2 separate regions of the Homo sapiens genome follow, and region 2 is reported to be linked to region 1. The links are microRNA targets in miRTarBase. Many come from high-throughput screens and were not tested one by one. Region 1 holds a microRNA gene; the other region holds the end of a gene's coding sequence.

Region 1 (4,351 bases):
CACCGAAGGTGTGGGTGGGAGTGAGGGTTGGGTTTAAGGTTAAGACAGGTGGGCCGGGCGCGGTGGCTCATGCCTGTAATCCCAGCACTTTGGGAGGCCGAGGCGGGCGGATCACGAGGTCAGGAGACTGAGACCATCCTGGCCAACGTGGTGAAACCCCGTCTCTACTAAAAATACAAAAAAAATTACCTGGGCGTGGTGGCGCCCGCCTGTAGTCCCAGCTACTCAGGAGGCTGAGGCAGGAGAATCGCTTGAACCCGGGAGGTGAAGGTTGCAGAGATCGCGCCACTGCACTCCAGCCTGGCAACAGAGCAAGACTCCGTCTGGAAAAAAAAAAAAAAAAAGATTAAGACAGGTGAAAGATATTTGGCCGGGCAGATTGCTTGAGGTCAGGAGTGCGAGACCATCCTGGCCAATATTGTGAAACTCTGTCTCTACTAAAAATATAAAAATTAGCCAGGCGTGGTGGCTCGTGCGGGTAATCCCAGCTACTCAGGAGGCTAGGGCAGGAGAATCGCTTGAACCTGGGAGGTGGAGGTTGCGGTGAGCCGAGATCGTGCCACTGCGCTCCAGCCTGGGCAACAAGTGCGAAACTCCGTACCCCCAAGAAAACAAACAAACAAACAAACAAAACAGGCGAATGAGGAATGCGCGCTAATAGGGAGTCTGTGGTGGGAATTCGAGAGGAAGGTGACCCTGAGGAAGCACTGTATGGTGCCCGGCATGGGCTGGGCTGGGCTGGGCTGGGCTGGGCGGCAGCGCCTCAGAGCCAGGCCTTAGTGAGGAGACTCGCAGGACGCGGCTTGGGTGGCAGGTCTGGGAAGGTTCCTTCCGAGAGCTATTGGGACAGGTTTAGACCCCCCAAATGGCGACCTCGAACTTAACCCTTTGTGCCTCAGTTCTCCCCCTCTGTAAAATGAGTATAATGGTGACTTTCTCACAGGACGCTTTAAGAACTAAACGAGGCCTGGCCGAGGGCGGTAGCTCACGCCTGTAATCCCAGCACTTTGGGAGGCCGAGGCGGGTGGATCACGAGGTCAGGAGATCCAGATCATCCTGGCTAACACGGTGAAACCCCGTCTCTACTAAAAATACAACAATTAGCCGGGCGTGGTGGCGGGCACCTGTAATCCCAGCTACTCGTGAGGCTGAGGCAGAGAATTGCTTGAACCCGGGAGGCGGAGCTTGCAGCGAGCCGATATTGCGCCACTGCACCCCAGCCTGGGCGACAGAGCGAGACTCCGTCTCAAAAAAAAAACGAGGCAAGGCAAGCAAAATGCTTGGCGTAGTGCCTGACTCATCGTAGGCCCTCAATAAATGTTAGCAATTACCACCATTTTCTCAGCATCTGCCCTTCACTGGGGAGGCACTAATGAGAAGGGGCAAAAAAGCCTTTCCGAGACCATCCTGTTTCCCAGTCCGGGTTCCACCACCCGAGCATGCGAACCCAGGGCGTTGGGAACCCAGCGCGCACCCGTCGAGGGGCGGGGCCTGCCGTTCCCGCCTCGAGTGTGGCCCCGCCTCCACCTCCTTCGTCGCGGCCTCTAGTGCACTTTCGGCTCCTTCCCCTTCCCGGGCCTTTCAGCTTGGTCTTTCCGGGCCTCGCTTCCCCCAGCCCCTGCGCCCGGCCCGAACGAGAGGTTCCGGAGCCCCGGCGCGGGCGGGTTCTGGGGTGTAGACGCTGCTGGCCAGCCCGCCCCAGCCGAGGTTCTCGGCACCGCCTTGAGAGCTTCAGCTGCCCCAGGGTGTGCAGGTTTGCTTTAGAGGGTCGGCGGGCGGAGCTTCGGGGAAGAGGAGCTCTGGGAGAGTCATTCCGGCCAGTGGCCGGAGACCGTCGTCGCTCTTGGGAATCCTTGGCCGCCCAGACAGAAGGGAAGTAGGCGCCGGAGAGCCCGTTCTGCATTTTGATTCATCTCGGGCCCTGTAAGGGTCATATCTTGTGAAAATAACCTGTAAAATCAATTTAACGTTCAGTGCAGCGTGTAAAGACAGCTCTAAGAATTTAAAAGACGCCTGAGTCAGAACATTTAAATGCTTGGGTCCCTGTAGCAGCGTTTTAACACGTCTGAGTGCAGAGGGTGGAGAATCGAGCCTGATTGCCGTTCACGCCCTGTAACCTTTAAGAAGGGTAAAGAAAGGCACCCTAAAAAACGCAAGGGGACACTTACCCTAGGGGGGGACGAACAGCTAGCTTTTTGGAATTTGGGTTGGTCTTCATTTCCAAGTGCGAAATTTGCCTGCAAAACTTTTTATTTGCAGTCATAGATCAACGATAAACAGAATTGTTAAAACACTGAACTTAACTAAGTAGTGGCTTTTGTTGACAAGTCGATTGTGTTATTAATTCTTAATGTCTCATCCAAGGCAGGAATCGTTATCTCAGTTTTGCAGGTGGGAAAAGTTTGGCACAGAAAAAAGCATTTTCCTTAAGTTCTCAGAAGCAACGGCCGGCCGAGCTGCAAATTAAGTCCCAGCATTCTGCCTCCTCAGCTGCGTCCCCCTCTAGACCATGTTAGAAAACAAATGAGTAGTTACTTTGATGTTACTCATAAAACGATCGAGTAAACCAAATGTTCTATAAACATGAAGCGTTAAATCATAATAACCTTCAATGCCTGTTCAGCTTTGGGAGGCTCAGTTGCCCTTTGGAGTTTGATACCTTGCAGAGAGGAGGGGCAGAGCAAAAACATGAAAAGTAATGTCAAGGGAAAATTTTTGTCTCCTGAGGTCAAACTGTGCCCATCTTTACTGCCCCTGTGTTGGTGTCATTCCTTTCAGCGCACTCCATGTTCTGGCAAAACACCCACAGCTCACGTTCTCGTTGTAGCCACATTACACCTTTGCATTACTCTTTTGCCACTGACCTCACTGTCAGTCTTCTTGTCACGCTGTTTCCTCCAGGTGCTCTTTTCTTAGGCTGTTATGTGAAAACCAGTTGTTCAAGTGTGGAATGATTTGTCATTCCTGAAGGATGATTCTAGAGTTAATGATAAAAAAAAAAAAAACTACCAACAGATCTTAGACAAAAAAAGAAGCACAAAAAAACTATTATGGAATTTGATAGCTGAGTTATTTGGGGGGAAAAAGTAGACTTTGATTTTTTTCCCTTTTCCCCCAGTTCACTCATAACTGGGAAGCTGCAGCTCAGTTTTAACTTTGGCATAATGGTGGTGGTGGTGGAGAATCCTCTTGTTTAGACTCAGTGAATTGGAAAGTTCTCTTTTTAGGATGCTCCTTTTGGACAGCTTGGAGCAAGTGGAAACACATGTGTGCTTAGAATGTGACATGTTTTGGCACTTGTAAATCTGTTTGTCCATAAAGCTTGTGTAAGAGCTTGGGACCCAGGATGTGTGGTATAGGCCCTCTGTAAAAGTCATCCTTGAGGTTCCTTTCCAGCTTGTGGACAGCAGAAATTTGAACATAAGGTAGTGTCCTTGGAGCAGCCAGCTGTTTATTCATCTTTTTGTTTTCTTTCACTTCTTGGTTCCACAGATTAGAATCCCAAGAAAATCAAATGGCATCCGGGGATTTCTGCTCACCTGGAGAAGGGATGGAAATACTTCAACAAGGTAAGAGTAGCCACTTGCAAAAGGTTTGATGATTTATCCAGAGAGGTCTTATCCAGGTTCTTGCCTTTTCTAGTAAAAAGCATTTATTGGCTCACACCTGTAATCCCAGCACTTTGGGAGGCTGAGGTGGGTGGATCACGAGGTCAGGAGATCGAGACCATCCTGGCTAACACGGTGAAACCCTGTCTCTACTAAAAATACGAAAAATTAGCTGGGCGTGGTGGTGGGTACCTGTAGTCCCAGCTACTCCAGAGGCTGAGGCAGGAGAATGGTGTGAACCTGGGAGGCGGAGCTTGCAGTGAGCTGAGATCGTGCCACTGTACTCCAGCCTGGGCAACAGAGCAAGACTCCAAAAAAAAAAAAAAAAAAGGATTTATAAGTTTCCCCAGTATGGTTTTCCTCACAGAAGCATGTGTTTCTGAGGAAACTGGAATACATGAAGATCCTTGAACACTCTCTTATTGGAAAACAGACTACACTAATTCCTGTTAATGTTGGTTCAATATCTGCTTGTGTAGTAGGCTAAAAACTCAAGATGCTCCCATGCTGATGTTAGCAAGCATATTATAAAAATAAGGGTAGCCAGCAAATTCCTTGAAGGTGTCCTTCCTACCTGTGTCTTAAATATTCTCATATCTTAGTCTCCAAAATTTCAGATCCTTCTATATCCTGAGTTCTTTCCATATCTCAGATCCTTTCTATATCTTGAATCCTTCAAGAGCTTGCATTTTCTATATCTTGACTATTTCCATATTGGATGCTTCAGTACCTTAGGGAAAAAG
Region 2 (4,361 bases), not on the chromosome of region 1:
GGAATTACAGGCGTGAGCCACCGTGCCTGGCCTGGAAACTCTTTAGATGAGCTTACCGAAGCCCGAATTGCAGTGCAGTGTGAACAGGTTAACAGGATATTCTAGCACCTGCACTACCCCATGAGCAGCCCCTCTTCCTCTCCCTCTCCACAAAAGAACCACCAGCCTGTGTGCCAGGGGCCACCTGGATGCTTCCATGTGATACTCAGATCTCAAAGCTGTGCAGTAGCTTGAATTTAAGTCATGTGCTCACACCCTTGGCTCTCAGCAAGCTGCCCCATGGACATGATGTGTCATTTCCACATCGTGCAGCTAGAAGAGGACTCCTCCTCAGCTCGGCATGGTGGCTCACGCCTGTCATCCCAGCACTTAGGGAGGCCGAGGCGGGCGGATCACGAGGTCAGAAGATCGAGACCAGCTGGCTAACACAGTGAAACCCCGTCTCTATTAAAAATACAAAAAAATTAGCCGGGCGTGGTAGCAGGCACCTGTAGTCCCAGCTACTCGGGAGGCTGAGGCAGGAGAATGGCGTGAACCCAGGTGGCGGAGCTTGCAGTGAGCCGAGACCGCACCACTGCACTTCAGCCTGAGGGACAGAGCGAGATTCCGTCTCAAAAAAAAAGAAGACTCCTCCTCCCATCCCTCCGTGGCTAATATCTAACCTGGATTGTTGGACTTTAGGTTTACTTCTATTGAACTGACCCAGCTGCCTTATTCTCAGTTGTACCGTGACATTTAGGTAAAGAAACCACTAAGGGCTGAGAGGAAAAATAATCCTTCAGTGGCTGGAGGGCATGAAGTCATTTTCCAAGTTCAAGGTGACTTGGCTGGTGTGGTAAACACTGCTGCAGCAAGAAAGCCGCCAGAGGCTCCATGAAGACGCTTGGGCATCACCAAGCCCAGGGACACTGTGCACAGTCAAATTCGATTTTAACATAGTTTTCAAATGTCACAAGTCTCTTATTTTCTCCCCAACCATTCAGAAATGTAAAAAGCTACGAATGGTTTGCCAGCCCCTGACTTAGGACCATGTCAATCCAGAGAGAATCCAGGTGCTGAAGCAGAATGAAGCTTGCACCCCAGCCCCTTTTTGGCTGGTTGCTGTTAGTGAAAAGAACACAGCATTATGGTTAGCACAGAATCTGGAATTTTCAGACCATCCATATGGCTGACGTTCCCCTCCTTCTGTCCTGATCATGAACCAGGAAGTGGCCAAGAGGAGATGACGAGAGCCCAGGAGGAGGCAGGGTCAGTCTTTGTGAGCAGTGTTTTGGAAGGCCAGGAACAGGAGTTGCAGGCGGTGCATGTGGGTGCCTTGGCTCTTGTCCCATGGTTGGGCGGCCCAGAAAGCCTGAAGTAGAGAAAAAGCAACAGCAACCCCTGTGCTAGACCTGAAGGTGACCACCTGGCTAAGCACATTACCTGCCAAGACCCTTCTCAGCAGCCACGTGACGCAAGGCAGGGACACTGCACACATACTCCACGTGCACAGAAGTTCCGGTGTGAGTAGGGCATGGCTGGAGAAGAGGCAGTTACAGTGGATGCACTGACTCCATGGCTGTGGAGAGCACCATCACCCTTGTACACCGGGAGGAGCCCCTGAAGAGGCAGGTGGGAGGTCACCAGTCAGGAGTTCCAGGTTCCCCCTGAATGACAAGGACTGTGGAGACAGGGTTGAGGTCTTACAGTTGGCCTCATGCCTGTGAATATCAGCCTTAATTAGATGCTGTGTGAGAAAATCAAATGGACAAGGTCCCAGCCTGTTAGATTAGGGTTGAGCAGCAGATTCACGTGAAAATTCAATTTCAGCAAAAAAGCATCAGGCCTTGAGCAAGCCACCTGCCATCAGCCACGCCTCCCTCCATGTTCCTGCATGTGCCAAGAACCCCACCGTGCTCCACCTGGGCCACTTCTCAAGGTTGTGTCAGCAGCAAAAAAAAAACTGAGGGGTGAGGTAATGGCCCCCCAGCTCCCAACAGAGCAGGCTCACTCCTCACCTCCGAGTTTCTCAGCTGTGCCTGCACCTGCTGGGCCTCTGCGTCATGGGAATGGTGGGCAAAAGGAACTGATAGGGCCCTGACAACCACAGTGAGTATTCTGCCTGCCGTCCCCTCCTAGGTGGAATGGCCACAGGATTTCTCGTGAGCTTCTACAAAGAATGAAATCTCAGACCCTCAGTTCTTGGCAGTCTTTCAGGCTGAGTTTTAAGGAAAGCTGTCCCGCACCATAAATTACATCCAGACCTGTGTGGCCTCCCCTGTAAAGTAAGGCAATTGGGGTTCTCCTCCCTGACCCTGCCCCTGTTTCTCCTCCCATCTGTCCTTTCACCCTGTGGTCTGCTGGTCTACCCCCACTGCAGCTCAAGTTCTTTTCCCTACCATCGTTTTTCCCCACTTCCTCTCCCTAAGTTCTCCCCAGAGTCCTCTTTCCCCACTCCCTCTCCACCTTCTTCCTAACCCACTCTCACCCCAAGTTCTTCACTCAACCATCTTTTCTTCCCAGTATCTTCTTTCCCCACTCCCTCTCATCACCCCTTCTCAGGTTCTTCTCCCCATATTTGTTTCCCAACCACCTTCTTTCCATCCCATTTTCGTTTTTTTTTTTTTTTTTTTTTTTTTTTGATACAGAGTCACACTCTTGTCACCCAGGCTGGAGTGCAGTGGCGTGATCTTGGCTCACTGCAAGCTCTGCCTCCCAGGTTCACACCATTTTCCTGCCTAGCCTCCCAAGTAGCTGAGACTACAGGTGCCCGCCACCACGCCCGGCTAATTTTTTGTATTTTTAGTAGACACGGGGTTTCACTGTGTTAGCCAGGATGGTCTTCATCTCCTGACCTCATGATCCACCCACCTCGACCTCCCAAAGTGCTGGGATTACAGGCGTGAGCCACCACGCCCGGCCCATTTTCGTCTTTTTCTCCACTGTCTTTATTTCCTCCTCACCGCGTTCCCCCCTACCAAAAAAAAGTGGGGCAACTAGGCCAGTACAAGACAGTCATCAGCCTCAGGGCCTGTGCGCACACGGGTGTGCTGGAGATGCTGGCATGGATGGGGGGGTTGGTACTTGCATTTGCTTGAGTGCTCGTTCTCTGACAGGCCCAGTAAGGCATGTTTCTCTACATTGTTTCCTCTCAGTACCCTCTCACAGTGCATGTTTTCAGATACACAAATAAGGCTCTGAGTTTCAGGGAGGGCAATGATGTCCTAGGTCACACAGCAAGCCCCTGGGACACAAGTGTGACCTCAGAACCTTGCTGTGACACCTTGCTTCTGTGCCTGGCACTGGTATGTGCTCCATAAATGCCAACCACACCAGTAATGATGGCGTGTACCTGCTAGCCCAGCCTGCCTCTCTGAGGAAGGGGATAGGGCTGGGCCCTCTGGTCCTGGGTGGCTGGGTTAAGTTCTAAGACAAGGACCTAATTTGAAGTTGGAATTCTAGGCACTCCTGGACCTCCTCCAACATGAGCTAATGCATTTCCGTATTGTTGAAGCCAGTGTGAGCCACTGATACTTAAGGGAAAAGAGTTTAGGTAAATTATTTTAACCTACTCAGTCTAGCAGCGCTCGTAGAGCCCTCCTTGTGCTGCTTCCTCATTCACAGGGACCTGTCAACTCAAAACTGCAGACTGCACCCTGATTTTGAGGGACACAGGCTTTATTGAACAGGTTAAGGTCAAACATTTCAGGAAATAAACATACATTTTGTATGAAGTTGGATTTTTTTTTTTTTTTTTTTTTTTGAGAGGGAGTCTCACTCTGTCACCCAGGCTGGAGTGCAGTGGCGCGATCTCAGCTCACTGCAAGCTCCGCCTCCTGGGCTGATGCCATTCTCCTGCCTCAGCCTCCCGAGCAGCTGGGACCACAGGTGCCTGCCACCACGCCCAGCTAAATTTTTGTATTTTTAGTAGAGATGGGGTTTCACCTGTTACCCAGGATGGTCTCAACCTCCTGACCTCGTGATGTGCCCGCCTTGGCCTCCCAAAGTGCTGGGATGACAGGCATAAGCCACCACACTCGGCCTGAAGTTGGATATTCTTGAGAGCAATTCTGAACCTTTACCAACATTCTACATGTTTGTCAGTATAAACGATTCCATATAAAATAAGTAAGTTAAGGCTATAGGTTTATTCACATATATACACATTTATATGTAAGTGGTCTATCCCATGTGAATTTTTTGATGCTGGGTAAGCCTTGAGCTACGATTAAAAGCTTTGCCACAGTCATTGCATTTATAAGGCTTCTCCCCGGTGTGAATTCTCTGGTGTATAATTAGGTGTGAACGCCACCTAAATATCTTCTCACAGTCTTCACACTGATGCAGTTTCTTTATAGTATTAACCTTTTTACGGCTCACAA

What was found. Region 1 holds the annotated microRNA hsa-miR-4707-3p (AGCCCGCCCCAGCCGAGGUUCU, at 1,691-1,712, shown strand). A microRNA usually pairs through its seed, bases 2 to 8, with sites in the 3' UTR of a target mRNA and lowers its output. Matches are read on the target gene's strand: a 7mer-m8 pairs with bases 2 to 8, a 7mer-A1 pairs with bases 2 to 7 and ends in A, and an 8mer does both.
Region 2: miRTarBase lists ZNF7 as a target of hsa-miR-4707-3p. Seed matches in the 3' UTR shown: 8mer at 3,965-3,972.

What each region holds. Positions count from the first base shown.
Region 1 is chr14:22,954,318-22,958,668 of GRCh38, reverse strand. MIR4707 (microRNA 4707) reads left to right here and starts at 1,640; the gene lies at 1,640-1,719. HAUS4 (HAUS augmin like complex subunit 4) reads left to right here and starts at 1,579. Exons shown (of 10, transcript NM_001166269.2): 1 at 1,579-1,753; 2 at 3,493-3,569. The coding sequence starts at 3,515. It overlaps PRMT5-DT (PRMT5 divergent transcript), which reads right to left. Exons shown (of 3, transcript NR_110002.1): 3 at 3,977-4,338. RefSeq lists a silencer at 57-417 and enhancers at 217-795, 796-1,375, 1,758-1,887.
Region 2 is chr8:144,842,969-144,847,329 of GRCh38, reverse strand. It overlaps ZNF7 (zinc finger protein 7), which reads right to left. Exons shown (of 5, transcript NM_003416.4): 5 at 3,558-4,361. The coding sequence ends at 4,162. It also overlaps a transcript of COMMD5 not described here. Among named protein-coding and RNA genes, the nearest start is that of COMMD5, 7.9 kb to the left of the region's middle.